Linked DNA regions of Homo sapiens: regions 1, 3 and 4 are each linked to region 2. The links come from fine-mapping of genetic effects on plasma protein levels. A gene starts in region 2. Each other region holds a variant in brackets. All regions are shown on one strand. Distances are between the middles of the regions.

Evidence for each region. PIP is the posterior inclusion probability: the model's chance that the variant is causal. Protein levels are from antibody-based Olink assays in UK Biobank. Linkage for the fine-mapping came from a reference panel and not from the study's own genotypes, which makes the PIPs less certain.
Region 1: its variant is fine-mapped to the plasma level of the SIRPB1 protein (UK Biobank, PIP above 0.99).
Region 3: its variant is fine-mapped to the plasma level of the SIRPB1 protein (UK Biobank, PIP above 0.99).
Region 4: its variant is fine-mapped to the plasma level of the SIRPB1 protein (UK Biobank, PIP above 0.99). The variant lies in the coding sequence of SIRPB1. If it changes the protein, the assay may bind it differently, which can mimic a change of level.

What each region holds. Positions count from the first base shown.
Region 1 is chr20:1,555,231-1,560,381 of GRCh38, forward strand. It overlaps SIRPD (signal regulatory protein delta), which reads right to left and starts at 2,475. Exons shown (of 4, transcript NM_178460.3): 1 at 2,351-2,475. The coding sequence starts at 2,423. It overlaps LOC107985409 (a long non-coding RNA gene), which reads left to right and starts at 2,777. Exons shown (of 3, transcript XR_007067493.1): 1 at 2,777-2,894. The variant C/T (reference allele first, on the strand shown) is at 2,503.
Region 2 is chr20:1,617,750-1,622,900 of GRCh38, forward strand. It overlaps SIRPB1 (signal regulatory protein beta 1), which reads right to left and starts at 2,260. Exons shown (of 6, transcript NM_006065.5): 1 at 2,120-2,260. The coding sequence starts at 2,195.
Region 3 is chr20:1,535,004-1,540,154 of GRCh38, forward strand. SIRPD (signal regulatory protein delta) reads right to left here. Exons shown (of 4, transcript NM_178460.3): 3 at 2,152-2,307. LOC105372499 (a long non-coding RNA gene) reads left to right here. Exons shown (of 4, transcript XR_001754464.2): 3 at 4,754-5,009. Among named protein-coding and RNA genes, the nearest start is that of SIRPD, 20 kb to the right of the region's middle. The variant C/T (reference allele first, on the strand shown) is at 2,937.
Region 4 is chr20:1,568,198-1,573,348 of GRCh38, forward strand. SIRPB1 (signal regulatory protein beta 1) reads right to left here. Exons shown (of 6, transcript NM_006065.5): 3 at 3,523-3,840; 4 at 2,608-2,940. Among named protein-coding and RNA genes, the nearest start is that of SIRPD, 13 kb to the left of the region's middle. The variant T/C (reference allele first, on the strand shown) is at 2,721.

The DNA.
Region 1 (5,151 bases), 63 kb before region 2:
ACCACATGATCTTGCTTATATGTGGAATGTCGCTTATATGTGGAATCCAAAAAAGTCAAACTCAAAGAAGTAAAGAATAGAATGTTGTTACCAGGGTCTGGGGTGGTGGAGAGTTGGACAAGGAAATGGGAGATGCTGGTCAAAGCCTATAAAGTTGTAGTTAGACATGAGGAATAGGTTCTGGTGATCTATTGCACAGCATGGTGACTATAGTTAATGCATACTTCAAACTAGCTAAAAGAGTAGATTTTAAATGTTCTTACCACAAAGAAGTGATAAGTATGTGAGGTGATGGATATGTTAATTAGCCTGATTTGATCATTTCACTGTGTAGACATGTATAAGAACATCACATTATACCACATAAATATATACAATTATTATTTGTCAATTAAAACCAAGATAAAATTTAAAAAACCATCAAGTTGTACACCTTTAAAAACAAATAAGTTCTACAAAACAATGGAGGACTTTATTTTGAATGGTTTTGCCATCTTACTCGGTATATTCCTTTTCTATCGCTGAATAACAAATTACGACAAACTTAGAGGCTGAATACAACACATATTAATTATTTCACAATTTTTGTCCATTTGTAATTCAGATATAGCTTAGCTGGGTTCTCTGCTTCAAGGTCTCACCAAGCTCCACTCAAGGTGCCAGCTGGGCTGTGTTCTCATCTGGGGGTTTGACTGGGGAAGTGTTCATTCTAAGTTCACTCAGGTTGTTGGCAGAATTCAGGTCTTTGTGGTTGTAGGACTGAGGCCCTCAACTTCTAGGGGCTTCCCTCAGTTCATTGCCATGTGGGCCTTCTCACAGGCAGTTTGCAACATGGCTCCTTGCTTCTTTAAGGCCAGAAGTTGCAAAAAAACTCTAGTGTGATAGATCTTACACAACCTAACATACTCAAGGGGGAGACAGTGCATCACTTTGGCCATATTCTATCAGATAGAAGCATGTCACACACAACTGAGATTACATAAGGGTGGGATAGTTGGGAGTCACCTTACAGTCTGTGTACCTCACCCAATAAGTACAGTTAAAAATTCAAGTGAGTTTTACTAGCTTTAAGTATCTTAAGTTAGCTTTTACCTAAATATTTTTAGTCATCCTTAACTCTCCATTGAATAAAAAGAGGAAGCTTTATAGTTACCCTTCCTATGTATAAAGCACAGACAGATATAAATGCAGTACATAAACCAACAAAGAATATATCTAAGTTATTAAAATTTCATGTTGAGGCTATTATGAGTTGAATTGTATGCCTCCGAAATATATGTTGAAGTCTTAACCACAAGTAGCTCAGAATGTGACCTTACTTGGAAATAGAGTTACAGAGGAAATCAAGTTAAAATGAGGTCATTGAGGTGGGTGCTAATCCAATATGGTGGATGTTTTTATAGGAAGTGGAAATTTGGACACAGAGACAGACATACATGGGAGTAAGATGATGTGAGGATACAGGGAGGGTGGTGCCACCTGCCATCCAACAAATGTTTGAGGCTACCACTGCTAGAAGCTCAGAGACAGACATGGAACAGATTCAACCTCACAGTCCTCAGAAAGAACCAACCCTGCCCACACTTCGATTTTGAATATCTAGTCTCCAGACCTGTGAGAAAATTAATTTCTGTAATTTAAACCACCCAGTTTGCAGTACTTTTTAAGAGCAGCCAAATGCAGTGGCAACAGAGAAATAAAAAACTGAATTTCACAGAAAGAAGTGTAAAATCTGCCAGGGGCCAGGTGTGGTGGCTCACGCCTATAATGCGAGCACTTTGGGAGGCCGAGGCAGGTGGAACTCTTGAGCTCATAAGTTTGAGACCAGCCTGGGCAACATGGTGAAACCCCATCTCTACAAAAAAGACAAAAATTAGCTGGGCATGGTGGCGCGTGCTTGTAGTCCCAGCTACTTGGGAGTTGGAGGCACGAGAATCACTTGAGCCCAGGAGGTGGAAGTTGTAGTGAGCCAAGATCGCACCACTGCACTCCAGCCTAGGTGACAGAGTGAGACCCTGTCTCAAAAAAATAAGTAAAGGTAAAAATAAAATAAAATAAATTACACCCTCCAGAGGCTGGAGGGTGAGAGCTGTGATGGATGCTGTGCCCCGCCCTGTGACCATAGGTGTGAGTCGTTTACCTGAGCAAAGAGATTTGCAACAGACATGGCCACCGGGAGACTTTGTCAGAATTGGGGACCATCCCAGTGTAGTCTTCTGAGTTCTGCCTGTTCTGGGATAAGATGGAGAAAACCCTCCCAAAAGAAATTCTATGGGAACAGGTGAGGGAGAGTTCACTAAACAGGCAGAGGGGAGAACCCACCACACACATACACTGAGGCCCCACTCACCTGCCAGTTCAAGCAGCAGATACAGCAGTAAGGAAGGCAGAGGTGGGTGGAGTGGGGAGGCAGGGATGGGCATTGTGGTGAAACCTGGAGCTTGCTCTGCCTGAATGCCTGTCCTGGAGATGCCCTCGACTCAGTGCTCCGAGCAGAGAAGA[C/T]AGTTCTTGCCTCTGTGATGTCAGAGGAAGGGGATTGTGATGAGAGGAAAGGCCAGGGGACTGGGACACTTTTTCCTTTGTGATTATAAAATTGAACAGACAAGGTTGCTTCAAGCTAGGAAGTTGCTGCTGGAAGTATTTAGCTTTGCTGGGGCTGGGGGGCTTGACACCCACAGCCTTATACTCCTTCCTGAGTTTCATCCCATCTCACAGGTTCTCCCCAACTTCATGGCCTTTGCCTATCTAGGAGCCTCAGACACATAGGCTAGACAAAGGCCTCATCCACATGATGCGCAGGTATGGGTCTAGCTCCTGCATGAGCTCAACATCTGGGCCTGTCTGAGCTGCACAGCTGAAGAAAGAGACAAGATGTCTATAGCCTCACCCACTTGGTAAGAGTTGGACTTTACAATGGATGCCCTTTCTTGCACTCCAGAGTAGTTAGAGGTAAAAAACAAGCAATATCTGCTGTGGGCTCTTGGCTTTTCTGTGGGTCCCTCCATACACTACCAGGAACTGCTTCCTTTTTCCTTCCTGCAGAGGAATCAGGCATGGCTGAGAAAGACATTCGAGTTGTGCAGGTGGTGATGATTTGTGCTTTAGAGGATGGAGGAGGCCTGCAGGGAAGGCGGAGCTGCGGGGAACACTCTCTAGGAGGGAGAGTAACATGCCTACAAACACCTGGGAAGGTGAGGGCTGCCTCTCCTGCTTGGGCTGGACCTGGGACCAGCTCTCAGAGATGGGATTGGAGGGGCAGAAGAAATGCCCCCAGAAAGAGGGAGGAAGCAGCATGTTGGCATCCTTCTCTCTCAGCTCTGGAATGGGTTCTTCCTAAGCACAAATGTTGTGTTCAGGGACACTCAGCCCACACTCAGCTGGTGACCCTTTAATGTCCAAGCATCCACAGGCAGGCACTGGCTGCCATGGCTGTTTCCCCATTGCCTCCTCATGACTTCTGCCTCCTCCTCAGGAACCAGCTAGATGTCAGGGCCGGGAGAGGTGTTAGACCCTCTAGGAAAAGAAAGCAGAGCCAGGCTGGCACGTTCTCTCTGAGACGACAAGAGTCCCCATCCCCTTGTGATGTCATCATCCTATCCCGTTGTTCTGAAATGATGAATTCCACAAAGGAATTCCTATCCATGGCCCCTGCTTGGAACTAGACAGGAACATTCCTCCAGCCTCCATCATCCTCCCCTTCCCCTACTCTGAGGAATCTTCTCACCTTTCATTAGACTCTAAGTTCCTTGGAGAGTCAGTACTCACGGGTCAGTATCCAAGAGTGCCAGCTTTGGAATCAGATATAATCTAGGCTAGAATCCTGAACGCACCTCCTAAGAGCTGAGTAATCTTGGGCCCATGATACAGACCTGTATATTCTGCAACCTTCTTGACATCTTCATTTGTATATATATATATATATGTATTTTTTTTTTCGAGACAGAGTTTCGCTCTTGTTGCCCAGGCTGGAGTGCAATGGTATGACCTCGGCTCACTGCAACCTCTGCCTCCCGAGTTCAAGTGATTCTCCTGCCTCAGCCTCCCGAGTAGCTGAGACTACAGGCGCCCACCACCACGCCTGGCTAATTTTTGTATTTTTAATAGAGACAGGGTTTCACCATATTGGTTAGGCTGGTCTCGAACTTCTGACCTCAGATGATCCACCTGCCTCAGCCTCCCAAAGTGCTGGGATTTCAGGTGTGAGCCACTGAGCCTGGCCTCTTTGTATACCTTAAATATTCAAGTTTGAGTTTCAGATCTGCACTCACAAACCTTATCTTCTCCCACACCATGCCTGTTTTGTATATGGTACCATCATCTAAGCAGTTTGTCAAACCAGGAAGGGACTCATGTTCTATACCCTCACTTATCCACTTGTTACCAAGTGAAAGGGGGTTGCTGCCTGATGTGCTAGAAGCCAATACTGTGACACCAGGCTTTTGAGAAAAGAAAAGCTTTTTATTGCAAGTTGACTAACAGGAAGACAGAAGTCTACCTCAAATCTAGCTCCATGTGCTGGCTTCAAGGCAGTAGTTTTATTAGCAAAAGTTTAGGGGTTGGATTCTGGGATTAGTATGTGATTTGTGAAAGGAAAGGGGAGGTCTGGAAAGTCCTTGGGCATGTACAGTTATCTCTCTATGCCTCTTCACGGCTCCCATGTGCAAAACCCTGGGGCGTCATCATGAAATACGTGGTAGAAACTCAGGCTGTGACATCAGCAAGCTCATTCTGAGCAAACTCCAGTTGGCCATATTGGTTCCAACAGATTTTAGTCAGTTTTGTTATCCTACAAGTGGAGGAAGTTTCGGCAGTTTAGCAATTTTTTTTTTTTCTTATCTGCTATCCTGTAAACTCAAGAATTTCTTAGTGACTGGTTTCTTTAACTCTTTGGGGGCATAGTTTCACACTCCTATCTTGCCCCTACCAGGCCCTATTGGATTTACCTCCTAAATCCCTTCTGAATTAATCTCTTTCTCCATCTCTATCATCATCTCTTGCCTGAATAAGAACAATTGCCTTCTCACTAGGGTACCCCCATTTTTATTTGCCCCCTATAATCTCTTTCTCCTTCTTCAGCCAGACTGGTCTTTTTACAACATAGATTTAATTATGTCCCTCTCTTGAATAAACATTTTTGTGGATTCTCATTAA
Region 2 (5,151 bases):
CTGCAATGTACACATATTTCATTAATATGGTATACATGATAAGTATATACAGTTCTGTCAAATAAAAATAAAATATTTTGTTAAAAGTTTCATTGAAATTAGAAACTTGGAGAAACAATGATAAAAAATGAAATCTCCTGTGTGTGCATGTACACTTACTTATATGCATACATGCATATACATATGTATACACACATATGTATACACACATTTGCAAATATATATACACACACATATATGTATATATACACACACACACATATATATGTATATATAGACACACACATATACATTCACAAATATATATCAAAGTGTGACCTATTGTGATAGTATATAAGTTTGTTTTGTGTATTAAATAAAATTACAACACACGTTAAAATCTCATTAAAATATCTGGCCCATAGAAAGTAAAATATGTGGCCCATAGAAAGCATCCAACACATTAATAACAAATTTAGAAGTACATACATCACAGTTGTAACTCTGGTTGTTGCTAACAAGTGTGGTAGGCAATAATTAATTCTATGTTTACTTCCCTGCATTTTCTAATATTTCTGCTAGTAGCATAACACGACTAAAAGAATGAACTTTGGAGCCGGTCGACCTGGACTTGAATCTCAGCTGCTCCACTGACTGAGGTAGGGGACAATGAATGGACAAGTTCCTCCCTCTGCCTGAGTCTTTGTTTGGAAATAGGGGATAATAGTTGCAGCTTTCACACAGGGATGTTGTGAGGATTAGTGGAGCTAAAACAGGCAAAATGCTAATAACTGTGTCTACATGGTAGGAAGAGCTCAATTGTTAAACTCTTACTGCTGTCATTTGGGTACAGTGTATGTGTGAGAAAAATAATTTGAAAAGTGAGACCCCTGCCCTCTAGGGCCTGTGAGGTGACATCACAGCAGGGCCCAGTGGGGAATTGAGAGGCTGCTGTGCCCAGCCCTGTGGTTCTGGGGTCAGCTCCATGGCCTGAGAAGGGATCAGGACAGGTAACTTGTCTGGGAGCTGTGAGCAGGGTTCTCCCAGGCTGCACCAGGAAAGGCCCTCCAATCCTGCCTGTCTTGGGAAGGGGAAAGAAATTATCCATGGGAAATTTAAGAGAACCAAAGGAGGTTGTAGTACCTGTTATGGGCTGAATGTGTCCCACAAAATGCATGTGTTGAAGCTCTAATCCCCAGCACCTCTGAACGTTACAGTTTGGGAGACAGGGTCTTTAAGAAGTAATTTAGTTAAATGAGGTCATTGGGGTGGGCCTTAATACAACAAGACTGATATTCTCATAAGAAGAGGAGATGAGGACACAGACACACACAGAGGAAGATCATGTGTTTAAGACACAGAGAGAAAATGGCCCTGTATAAGCCAAGGAGAGAGACTTCAGTAGAAACTAACCCTGCTGACACCTTGATCTTGGACTTCAGCCTCCTTAACTGCAAGGAAGTAAATATCTGTAGTTTCAGCCACCCAGCCTGCAGTTCTTTGTTATGGAAGCCCTAGGAAAGGAATATAGGACCCAGTAAGCAGCAAATGTGGAACTTCTTAAAGAGGAAGAGGCCACAGAGAAATGGGTGGTAAGAATCAGGTCACAGGGGAGGGAGGAGCATGGGGGAACAGAGGACAAAGTGAGGAGCACCCTTAGGGAGGATGGTGGCTGAACACTCCCAGGATACACCACACCACTGCCCTACTCAAGTGAGCACTATTACAGACTTCACATCCTCAGTTTGGTGAAGAGAGAGGGCTGGGCCTAGAGCCACATAACCCTGTTAGGGTGTCTCTGAGCTTACTCTGTGGACTTGGGCATGTCACTTGGCCCTAGGGCCTCAGGACTGGTGAGGATTTAGATAATGATTCTTCTCTGCTTTTTCAATTGAAATATTATCAAAATGTAAGTAATTGTTGTTGTGGTGGTTGAATCGTCCTGTGGTTCAATGCCTCTGGTAGCCAGCTGCAGATCCACAGAGAAAGTGCTCAGCTCCCTGATTTTCTGCTCTCAGTCAAAGCCTAATCCTTGGCCTTTCTTGGCAGCACTTGTCATTGTCCGGAATCCCTGAAAGTCCAGGGACAGGCCATGGCTCAGTGGGCAGGAAAAAAGATTTTAACCGAAGGCAGTGCTCACCTGTGAGTCTCCCCAGCAGTAGCGTCATCAGCAGGAAAGGACTAGGAAGGTGGGGCCAGGAGGCTGGCACGGGCATTCTGGAGACCTTAGGAGCCTGCTCTGTCCAAACGTCTGTGCTGGGAAGATCGCAGACTCTGCTCTGAGGAGAGAAGACAAGCCCTGCCTCCCTTAGTTCAAGAGGAAGTGGCTGCGATGGAGTGAAGCAGTAACCTGCTTCTGGATTGTGAAACAGAAATCAGGAACAGCAAGCAGCTACAATGCAAGCAGTTATGCATGCCCCATTTCAGGAGAATCAGACAGGCTTAGCAGAAATAATGCTTCCTTCCCACCTGAGGTCTTAACTCCTTCCATGACTCCTAACCCCATCTTTATGTCTTCTTGGTGATTTGCCATTTGGTGCTCTTAAGCCAGGAAGGACCTGTGGTTATGAAATGTTTCCTAAACTTTCCATCTCAAGACCTCAGGATGTGGTTGGCTTGTGGTCTCATTCTACAACAGCCTCAACCAAGTGCTACTCAGTTGGGGCAGGATGAGGGATCACTGGACCTGCTCAGTGTTGGAGAGGAACAGGTCTGCTCTTGAAATGGTTCCCTATTCCGAACTTTTATAAATATAAATGGCAAAACTTAGCCCAAATTCAGTCTCATGTGGCCGTTAGCACTTTCATATGCCTGCACCCAGCAGAAGGAATTATTTCCTGACTTCTTCCAGGAGAGGAAGTGGGCTTAGGGTAATAAGGATCTGCTTTGTGAGGTGAGGTGGGGATTATGGGTTATGGAAAGGGGATATGTTTATTATGGGGGAGAATATGGAGGGCAGATTCCTGGAGCAGTCACATCGATTTCAATACTCTTTGCTCTGCACATAGAACACCTATTCCATTCATCACTGTCTTCAGATGGGAACTGAGGAGGGAGGGAGAATAAATACCCTAAGAAGATGTGCTAAGGAGTTGGGGAAGTTACTGGGCCTGCCTAGGTTCAGTTTTGCCTTCTAACCTTGGGATAATAAGTCTCACTGCCATGTTTTAGTGAACATCAAAAGAGATAATGACTATACATCCCTGAGATTCAGTAGGTTATTATTGATACTCATGGTGCCAGGTGAAGAGAGGGAACTCAAATATTGCTTTTAAATGGATTTCTACTGCATGCTGAGTTTCCCACCAGTGGCCTTCTCCCATGTTCCCCGGACTTCTGGAACCCAGCTTTTATGGTGTACTTGGTCTACCTCTGACACTCTGAGATCAATTTCTCCCTCTGGATCCTCTTCACCCTGCTTTTTGTCAATCTGTAGATGAATTCCTTTTCTTACAATCTCCAGCTGTGTGACTTTCAACAAGACACTTGACTTCTCTAAGCCTTAACTTAATTACATGTAAATGGAAGTTATAACATGCACCTTGTAGTGATATGGTAAGAGTAATATAAGCCATACAGAAGGTTTGATTCATATTTAATTATAACCAAAAAATTGTGGCTATAATTACATTTGTGTACAGGGTGAGTTCACTGCTTCCCTGACATACTTGTGCTTTAGAAAAATTTCCTTGGTAGGAGAAATGGTTTCTCCTCCATCATCTGTGACTAAGAAAGACCTGTCTGGAAACCTCTCTTTCCCATGCTGGGCTTGCAATCCTTCACCTATCATGAGTAATTGTCAAATGAAATTGTAAAAGTCATCACATTTCCATGCAAATTTCTTTTTCAATGTGGCAGATGCACAGAGGGTGAAATCATCACCTCCTGCTCCACACTCACAGAAATGAATATAAAAATGATAAAATCATGTTAATCGATGCCAAATTACACTTTAAAACAAGAAACTAGTCTCTATATGACATGAAGGGTAGTAGCTGCTGTGTTTACTGCAGATGTCCTGTGCTCCAGGTACTGTGCCAAGCATTTTGTCAGTTACCTCATTAATTCATCACTCTGGTCCCATGAAATTAGCACTACCATTAACCTTTTTTTATAGGTGAGGAAACTTGAGGCACGCAGGCAATAATACATTTGTTCAACATCACCCAGCTTTTAGAACTAGAACACAGGTTGTCACACTCCATGGCCTTCACTATGACACCTCTCATAAGAAGGGAGAGATATCTCTCAGGAAGGAAGCAGAGAAGAAGCCATAACGTCAATTAGGCGCAGCCTCCACAGCAAGGTTGGGATAGGTGCCATGTTCCATAAAGTGCTGACAGCCCATGATCACTCAGGGCATTATTCCTGTAAAGATTACAGTGAAAGCAGTAATCACTAAAGATTTGGGGAAAAGCGACATCATAATAAATTCAAAAACAATAACTAAAAAACAAAAACAGCAATGAAAATAACATCTTAGAAAATAATACCTCAGAAAATAAAAATATAAAATGTGAAAATATTTTTAACATTAACATATTTAGTAACCTTATAGAGATAATGAAAAGAAAGTAAATCCATAAAACAAAGTCACGTGTGAAACAAGAATAGGTAGGTGTGCAGTAACAACAGGTATCTGAGAAAAGTAATAAAAAGAAGAATTTTGAAAAAATATAATTAGTGCTAAATTGTTTAAAAAACAAATAGGTGGATGTATTAATCTGTTCTTTCTATAATTGTTATAATGAAATACCTGAGACTGAGACTGGGTAATTGATAAAGAGAAGAGGTTTAATTGGCTGATGGTTTCAGAGGCTTTACAGGAAGCATAATGCTGGTATCAGCTTCTGGGAGGTCACAGGAAACTTACAAAAATGGCAAAAGGTGAAGGGGAAGTGAGCATATTTACACGACCAGAGCAGGAGGGAGAGAGAGAGTAGGGAGGTGCCACACATTTTAAAACCACCAGATCTCATGAGAACTCACTCATCATCATGAGAACAGCACCAAGAGGGAAATCTGACCCAAAGACCCAGCCAACTTCCACCAGGTCCTACCTCCAACACTGGGGGTTACAATTCAACATGAGATTTTGGTGGTGGCACAGATCTAAACCTTATCATTTTCTCCTGCCCACTTTCAAATATTATGTCCTTATCACATTGCAAA
Region 3 (5,151 bases), 83 kb before region 2:
AAGTTTGATGCATGGCCCATGTCCAAGAATAGGAGTGAGTTAGATAAATGATGGTACAACCACAAAATGGAAAACTATGTAGAGATTGAAATGATAGTGTTGATGTATATATTGGGGATGTATTGATGATGTTGCAGACACATATATATTTACATAGAAAAGGGTCCCCAATTTATCATTGAGTAAAAGAACAAATAAACCACCATATTTTGTGTAATCTTATTTTTGTTAAAAGTTCGATGTATCTAGAAGCAGCACAGTGAAGAGGTCAAAGTAAGAGCTAGTGGAGTCCCATTGACCCAGGTTTCAATGCCTCCTCTATTGCTTGATTGCTATAGTTTAAATATTTGTCCCCTCCAAAATTCATGTTGAAATTCAATCCTCAATGTGCAGTATTGAGAGGTAGGGTCTTTAAGAGGTGATTGGGTCATAAGGACTCTGCGTTATTTCACAAATTAGTGGATTAATGGGTTATCATGGGAGGGGAACTGTTGGTTTTATAAGAAGAGAGAGAGAGACCCAAGTATAGTATGCTAGCATGCTCAGTCCCCTCACCATGTGATACCCTGTGCTGCCTCAGGACTCTTTAGAGAGTCCCCACCAGCAAGAAAGCTCTCACCAAATATGGCCCCTTGACCTTGAACATCTCAGCCTTTACAACTATAAGAAATAGGTTCTTTTTCTTTATAAATAATCCAGTTTCATGTATTCTATTCTAAGCAACAGAAAAAGGACTGACATTGGTGTTTTACTTTGCGAAAATAACCTCCCTGAGGCTCTGTTTTCTTATCTATGTAATGTATACAATGTGGAAAGTAAAACTTCCTCTTGCAATTTTGTTGTGATACTGAAACCTGAAAATCTTTGAGAAACACTCAGGACTGTGCTCATAGAAGGACTTCTGTGAAATGGGCTTTCCATTCTTAACTGCAAGTCCAGTAGGCCAGGCTCCAGCCCTGACAACCTGGTGATTCTAGGAAGCGCACACCATTGCTTGGCTTTCAGTTCCTTCTTCTACCAAGCCTGATGGACCTTTCTCAGTTCCCATGACTTCTGTGAGTTCTAAGTGAAGACATAGACTTGCCAAAGACACAGAGTGAGAGTTGCAATGGCCGGATGCAGCAGGACTATTTTCGTGGGCTCATATTTGCACTTATTAAGCCCTAAAAGGCTGTAACAACCAGAGCTCACATAGGTGGTTCTGTGTGCTACACATTACTCCAAAAACTTAACTATATTAATTAACTAGTTTGATTCTCACCACAACTGTATTGGAAAGGCATTATTATTTATCCCGATTTCACAGACAAGAAAACAGAGGCACAGAGAAGTTGAGTAACTTATCCATAGTCAAACAGCCTACAAATGATGAAACTTGCATTTGAACCCCGGCCTGTCGTTTTTTTTTTTTTTTTTAATGCCTGTGCTTTTAACCACTTTATTAGTTGGACTCTAAATTGAGATGTTAACACCACTGGGAGAAGAATGGTTGCCTCTCCTGACTGTGCAGATCATCTTTGGAGAGAAGAGAGTAGACAGGCAGGAGAAACACCCGCATCAAGAACGTAATCCTAGGTTTCTGAGATTCTGGGAGACTTACTAGTCTAAAAAGGACCATTTAGCAATTTTTTCTAATAGTTCTACATTGCATGTGTAGTACTTGTTGTTATCTATCTACCTATCTATCTATCTAATCTATCTATTAATCACCTATGCATCCATGTGTACTCATCTTAATGACAGCATCCCTGTCTCCCTCCTGGGGACCAAGGGGTCAAATGCTGCTCCTCTACTTCTTCTCTCAGGATGGCATCAGGTCCTGCAGGTCAGGCCTAGGGGGTCGTGGAACCTTCACAGGACATCAGGGGTGTGGGAAGTGAGAGGGACTGGGCACCCCTGTCATGGGGAAACGCCTGGATGGGAGAGAAAGCAACCCCTCCAAGCAAGAAGAATTCTGGAAGGATTTGTTTTGGAGACACTAGTTATAAAACAAACTATTTAGGGAAGTGTCTTAAAGAGGAAGGGGTGGCAAAGAAAGAGGCCCTAGGACAACAGAGATTCATCCGCCCCACTGCAGGTGGCGAAATGGTACCGCCGCCAAACTCAGGAGAGCATCCCTGCATCATGGTACCTGAGGGTGGGGGCACTCACCTGTGAGTCCCAGCAGCCGGAGGCAGCAGCAGGGTTGGACGAAATAGTTTGTGCTGTTTCTCTCAGGCAGGGCCGAGAGGCAGGTATGGGCATCATGGTGGGCCCTGGAGCCTGCTCTGCCTGCAGGTCTGTTCTTGGGAGGTCTTGGATTCTGCTCTGCTGAGAGAGGCAAAACTATGTGTTCCATGATATAAGAGGAAGTTACTATGATGGGAGGAAAGGGCTGTAGGATTATGACCGTTCCAGTTTCTAGATTGTGAAATAGGAATCAGACACAAGCTAATAAGTTACTGATATAAGGGTCCCAAGGTGCTTGGAGGGGCCCTGGCAGACACCCTTAGTGCCTAGGCTGTGTCCTTTGGGCCCCTCACTTTGTGTCAGGTGTGCTGGTGACCCTTCCTCATCCAGGAGCCCAGGAACAGGGTCTGCCATAGAGAACGGTGTGTCCAGCCTCCTGTGATAGTCCAAGACCTGGGCTCAGATGAGCTGTGCAGCTAGTCAGGAGGAGGGCTCCCGGGAATGGGGCTTCACAGGTGTGGATCCCTGTTTTTCCCCACTCCAGAGGTGTCAGTTGTAAAAATGATCCTGAAGCCATATCTGATGGGAGGCTTTGGCTCTTCAAAGTACGCTTACAGGGGAAGTGACTTTGAGTGAGCAAGGAGTTCGATCTTGGGAGGAGGAGGATAGTTTCTGTTTTAGAGAAAAGGGGAAGAAGCCTGTGTGTGTCAAGCGGGGGGTGCAGGGCCTTAGTGTGCTCATACTGCAGGAACAGTGACATGCAGAAA[C/T]GCAGCTGGGAGGAGGAGGGGTATCTCTTTTTTCTGTCCCTAGTCTGGGGCCACCTCTTGGGAGAAGGGAGTGGAGGAGATGTAGAAACACTCACACCAAGAATACATCTCCTCTCCTCCTTCTGAGCAGCAGCCACCTGCACATGAAATCACATTCAGAGCCTCTAGCCATGAGCTCATCACTTCTGTGGACCCAGTGCCAGACACTGCCTCCTGTGACTCAGTTTCCCCACTGCTCCCCACCCCTGCCTCCTTACCAGTGGCTGACCGGATGTTGGTGATGAGAATGGTGATGAGAAGGGGTGGAATGAAAGGGGCCAATCAGCGATGAGATTTGATTGCTCTGTAGCATGATGAGTGTCCCTCTCCCCTCGACACCTTATTCTAGCTTGTTAAACATTTTTTCTGAGAGGGATTTCTTGACAAGGAACTGGCCAGAGTGTTCCGTTTAGCACTCTTTGTTCTAACTCTAATCCCTGTCTTCACTGATGACAGATTCTATTTTCTAGAGCTGACTGCAACAAGGTCCCTCTTCACTCATGCTCTTCGACACTCTTCCCATGGAGATGTAGGCATATGTTCCCTCCCCCTGAGTTTGGGCAGGTCTGTGACTGCAACAGAAGGGATGTGATGTGACTTCTGAGGCTAGACCATAATAATTCCCTGCATTTCTACCTGGCTTTCTTGGGATGCTAATTTTTGGAACCTTGCCACCATGCTATGAGGAAGCCCAAACTAGCATGCATGAAGAGATCACATTGCAGGGACACATGTAAGAGTTCTAACTGACATCCCAGCTAAGATGCAGCCAATATCCATTATCAATCATCAGACATGTAAAAGAAGAAGCTTCCAGATGACCCAGCAGTTGAGTCATCCCCAGGTGAGTTTCCCAACTGAGACCCCAGGCAACATATAGCAGAGATAAGTCATTCTTGTACCCTGTCTGAATTCCTTACCCACAGTGTCATTGATCATAATAAGATGGTTGTTTTTTTGACCTTGTGTTTTGGGGTGTTTTGCTATGCAGCAGTAGTAACTAGACAGCACCCTTGGCAACATCTTCCCCACCCCCACTGACCACACTAAAATTAAACCTTTGTCATTGTTTTAGTAAATTGTTGTAATGGATGCTTTCATTACTGGGTTTCAATCATTTTTATTTTTCTGATATAGGGATTTAAGGCTATAAATTCCAAGTACAGCAGTAACTACATGCCTCAAGTTTAATGTGCAGTATTTTAATTATTATTTAGTCCAAAATATTTTCTAGTATCTGTGGTAATTTCTTTTTTGATAAATCAGTTATTTAGATTATTTCCCAAATTCCTAATATATGAGGATTTTCTAATGATCTTTTTGTAAATATTTATAGTTTAATTCCACAATGATCAGAAAACATACTTATATAATTTTGATATTTCAAGATTTGTTGAGACTTGCTTCTTGACCAAGCTTATGATTAATTTTAGTTAATATCTCACATGGGCTTGAAAAGGAGCTGTGTTTTTCAGTTGTTGGGTGCAGTGCTCAATTACATCAAATTTGTTAATCACCTTGATCAAATCTTTTGTATCCTTACTGACATTTTGTCTGCATGTCCTCCTAGTTACTGAGAGAACTGCTGTGGTAGTCAGCCTTTGAGATTATCTCCAGCTCCTGGCATTCACCCCACTATGTAATCCCTTCCTCTGGATCTAGTGATTCACTTCTAATGAAAAAGTAAAAGTAACAGGATGTCACTTCTGAAATTAGCTTATAAAGAAATTGTGACTTGTATCTTCTTCTTCCCCTCTCTCCTGCTTCTTGAGGAGAAGCAGCTGCCATGTTGTGAGCTGTCCTATGGAGAAGCCCATGTAGCAGATATCTGATGTCTTCAGCCAGTTGCCCGCAAGGATCTGAGGCCTGCCAATAGCCATGGGAGTGAGCTTGAAGTGGATTCTTCTCCAGTTGAGCCTTTGGATTATTGCATTATTGGCAGACACCTTGATTGCAGCCTTAAAAGAGACCTTAAACCAAGATCACTCAACCTAAACTATGTCTAGAATCCTGACTCACAGACACTGGGAGACAGTAAGTGTTTGTTGTTTGAAATCACTAAGTTTTGGGTAATTTGTTATGCAGCATAGATGACTAATACAGATTTGTTAAGAATCTGGTAGCTTAATTGTGAGAAGGCAATGTGAAAATGGAACACAGAGAGATTTAAAGACAC
Region 4 (5,151 bases), 50 kb before region 2:
CACAATCCAGGCCCTAAATATTGCTTGAAGAGAGAATGCCAAACTGCAAAATGGCTGAGTCAAAAGGGAACACTCACCTAACCCTAGGGCACAGTCTCTCACTAGGCTCCCATGCCACTGATGCAGCACGTCACAGAAGGCATCCTGCAGTTTGCCTGCCAGCCTAGACAACCTAAAATGCATTTCCAGACTTAGCATATGTGCCAGGATGCCATGTCAGACACACTGAAAGAACCCAAAAATGGCAGCCCTCTCTCAGCCCCAGTGGGTGGTTGGAAGTCTAAGAAAAGACTCAACCTTGTCCAGATGGTACAGACTCATCTCATCCTGTGCCTCCTTGAGAAGTACAACTATGAACCCAAGAAATATCATGAGGAGCAGGCATAGGAGAACTTCCAAGGTGGAAGAGCGAGGTAAGAACCTGAGGACTGAGGAACAGCCCAGCAGCCAAACAGCAGGGACTCTATGCCCAAATACCAGCCCCCAGCCACAGAAAGTGATGAAGGGAGGACATAGAAAAGAGGAGGTCTCAAGTCAATAAATATAAATCCCGCACTTAAAGAAACTACAAAAAGTAGGGCAAAGTAAACCCAAAGAAAGCAGGAGATAGGAATTAATTTAAAAAAAAAAAGAGAGAAGAGAGCAGATAATTAATGAAACTGAAAACACAAAAACAATACAAAAACCCATTGAAACAAAGAGTCAATCTTTTGAAAACACCAATAAAATGGGAAAAAACTCTAGCATGACTGATGAAAAAGAAAAGAGAAATGACACATTTTTAGTATCAGGATGAAACGTGGGATACCATTGCAGACCCTGCAGACACCAAAAGGGTTATGAGAGGATATTATGAACAACTCTACACACATAAATATGACAACTTAGATGAAATGGACCAAAAGTTATGCAAAACACAACTTACCAGGGCTCACTCAATAGGAAACGAAAAATGTGAATAACCCTAAACTATTAACGACATTGAATCTATGATTATAAAATATCCAAAAATATCCCTGGGGCCCAGATCTTTCAAAGGAAAACACAAGCATTTAAAGATAAATTAAAACCAAATTTAACACACAGGAAAATGGTTCTAAAAAATTTGGTAAAATGTGAATGTATGCTCCATTTTAGATGATATGAGGAAATTATTTTAATAACTTTATGAAATTTAGTGATTTGAACACTTAAAATTTAAGTGGACAATGACACTGGTTTTGTGAAAAATGTCCTTGATCACATGATCCCTCAATGTGCAACTGCAGGTGCATGCGTGAGCAAGTTTTCAGTGGACGTGACTATGCACCTTCCACACATCTCTGATGATTGGGGACATTGTTTGTCTTCTATTTCGTGTCTTTCCTCTTCTGGCAGGCAGGGACATGAACAAATCCGTGACTCAGCACTGACCCAGGAGATGACGCAAACATCATAGGGTGTTTTGGAAGGAACCTGAGTCCTTATTCTTATTTCCTGGAGCCTCAGGGCAGAAAGAATAGAAGATTGGGCCCCAGCCATCATTAGAAGAGTAGCAGAATCACAAAGGATGTTGAATGTCAGCTTTAATGGCTTCTATGCTGGGGTTGGGCCCTGATGGGGAAGTTGTGGGACCCTGAGATGTGGGAGGATGTATTCGGGTCAAAGCACTCAAAGATTGTCTTTCGACTGGAGTAGAGGGACCCCTCCTGGTATTAAAAGAGAGGGAAATAAGACATATTTTGGTTATAGAGAGGGGGAACACTGGCCAAATTTGGGTCCTTGGGACAAAGCGCAGCAGAAAGGGAAAGTTTCTCTAATTAGCACAAATTCCCATTATAGCCTGGTAGTGAGCCTGTCCTCAGGGACTAGATTTACCTTCATTACTTTGGACCAATAACCTGGTCTAATGACAAGAAGTCTTCAACAACATCCCTCATTACTTCCTAAGTCCTGGTTTCCCCTTTGGTAAAACTCCAAGCTCACTGGGTGTTTGAAGCAGGAAAGGAGATCAGAGATGAACAGAAATTTGCATATAGTAAATGTGCAGAGTGGTTGTGATTATTGTTGGTCAAATATCACCATCAGAACACAAAAGAAGCCTGTGCTGTGACCAGGTCACCTGGGGGTCTGTCCAGGCTTAAACTTCACTTGTCTTTCTGAAATTTATAGAGCAGATGCTGGAGACTGGTGGCTGAGGTCACAGATGCGGATGGAAAAGTTTAGGATAGAATAGGGACAAGGTAGAGGTTAGAAAGTGTAAAAGGCAAGGTGCTGTGCTGGCGAGAAATGCAGAAGAAGGCGAGACACAGGACTTCATAAACAAACGGATCACCTCCCTCTCTCTTTTTTCCTTTAATGTATATTTATGTCAAAATATCTATCAAGTTGTGCATCAGACTTGACGCACAGTTTCTCCTGGTAGATGGGGCTTAAGGGTGTCTACAAATGGCCAATTGTTACCTTGAACCTTCTAAGTAGTGGTGACCCATGGAGTGTAGGATTTTAATGTAGACGTTAAAATTCTACTTTATATTTATAGACTTCTAGCTTATTTTATGACAAGCATGAATATTGCTTTTAACATTAAAGAAAAAGACAAAATTTAAAAATGGGAAGTAACCGCACCATGGGTGATATCTGAGCCGTGCTCCTTCTGGTGCGCTGAGATCTCCAGGGCATAGCTTTTGCTGACTGCTTGCTGCCCATCATGCTCCACCTGACAGGTGAGCACCACATCG[T/C]CCCTGTGGGCACAGGTGTTCACCAGGAGCCAGCTCATCCAGTTGTAGGTGCCATCCTTGTTCTCTATGAGGGTCGAAGCTGTTTCTGTCCGGGACACATTTCCATTCTCCAACCAGGTCAGCTGTAGTCCCCGGGGGTAGAAATTGCTCACCTGGCAGGTGACGTTTGCCTGGTTCTCTGCCCTCATGGGCTGTTGAGTAACCTCCAAGGTGGGTGGAACTGAAACAGCACAGGGCAGAAGCTCTGATCTTGTGGCACAGACAGATCACAGGGAGGGCTAAATAACGTAGCTCCCACCAACACAGTGAGGGCATCACCAGGACAGTGCTAGGCAGGCAGCAGGTGCTCAGACATTGAGGGCACTCGTTGCATATGAGTGAAATTACTAAGCACAGTGCCTGGCGCACAGTAGGTGCCCAAGGACTGTTAGCTGCTGCTAGGCTAAGGATGAGTGAAATCTACAAGCACAACCCCTGGCATGCAGTTGGAATGTAAGAACTGTAGCAAAATCAGTGAAATCGCCGAGCACATAGTGATTTGGCTCCTAGTAGGTGCTCACTAATTGTAGTTGCTCTTGGTGAAATAAATGAAACTCTGTAGCCCAGAGCTTGGCACATGGTTGCTGGTCCCCTGACAGCTGCCATTAAAATGATAGTAAGTGACCGGCTCACCTAGGTGCATGGGAGGTGGACAACACAGTTAGGAATTAGATTCCAGGCCTTTCAAGCTCTGGAGCCTGGGGAGAGGGGAGTGGGCTTGGCAGCCAGGTGTGGGCTTGGGCTGGGTGTGAGGGTCTTCTACCTCGGATGGCCTCAGACAAGTTGGCAGTCCCACGAAGAGGGTCCCCCTGCAAGGTGATGTGGGCTATCTCGCAGATGACTTGAGAGTGAACGTCCCCACGGGTCAGCACCACCCTGGCTGTGCTGTGGATGCTGTAGGACACACTGTCTCCTGCGGGGTCCACGTTGGTCTGGAAGTCTGAGAGCTCATTCCCATTTTTGAACCATTTCAGGGTGATGTCTCTGGGAGAGAAGCCATGGGACTCGCAGGTGAAGCTCACTGTGTGCTCAGGTGTGGCCCTCACCGCAGGGCCCGATACCACGGGGGCAGAGGGTTTGGCTACAAAAGGACCATCGATAATCAGGAGACATGACTCAGATGACCATCACTGATGATAAGCGTTTGACATGTTAAGAACCTTCTGAGACGTTAGTTTTTAATCTTTCTAATAATGTCGTGAAGGCAGTGTCCTTATTCTCATTTTACAGATCAGGACACAACAGCTCTTAGAGGTGAGAACCAGGCCATGGTCAGACAGTGAGTAGGGGCAGGGCCCAGAGGGAAGTCCAGGCCTGAGTTCAAAGTCCTCTCCACACAGGGAGACTTCCACCAATCTGGGCATAGGAACAAAATTACTGATTGGTCTCCCTCCATGTTATTAACTGGTCCTAGCTGTCCTCCCCCGGAAGGCTCACTAACCTCAGAGAGGGCATTTATAGAAGCCAATACAGGGATCAATGGCAAAGTGGCACCACCGTGAGAGCTGCAACCAGGCTGCTCAGCCCAGGACAGGGGTGGGCTGACAACCCCAGCTCCTCATCCGCAAAACAGGAGGACGGAGGACGGCGTTTCTACTTCCTGGGATGTCGCCAGGATTCAATGGGGCAATGGAAGCAGTTTTGCTCTGGATCAAACACAGAAGATGCTTCCCCCAAAAAACACAGATCTATCTTTAACCCAGACTTTACAGATACACAGAGGTCTCTCTTTAGGTATTATAAAAATATGAAACATTCCGTATTTTTCTTTTCACAAATATTTCGTTCTGTCAAATAAAAGGCATTAATTAAGGATAAAGCTTTAACGTAGAGCCAAGAGTTTGTAAGAGCATTGGAATCACACCTGCTAAAGGTCAAGCCACAGGATGTTGCAGTAGATAGACCTGGATAACAACTGAAGCCAGGGTCCGTGGGATTTTGATCTCTTTCACCTGGAGTACTTTAATGAAATAACCAATGAGAGTGGGTTTGCAGTTGAGGATTTTCAACCAGCTAATGAACTGTTTCCAAAAACAACCTTTTGTGAAAATCCCCTATAAAAAACCTGTCCTGTATTGCCATACGGGACACTATTCAGGGTTTCACTGACTCAGTGTACCCAAATTGCACCTCTTTATCTTTCAGATAAATGCTATTTCCTTTGGCCTTCCTAACAATCATTTTGCTGTTGTTGTTAGTTGTTCTAATCTGCTGGAAGTCCTAAATTTGAAAAGAGGAAATTTTTGGGAATCTGAATCTTCAGTTAGGACAGGTTTGGGTGAAAAACAAGGATCACTGAGTACTAAGAAAGCCAAAGGTGGTTAGCTTTTTCATCGTTAATTAATTACAAGAGACAAAGACCCAGGCCACACCAACAGACAGAAACCTATTC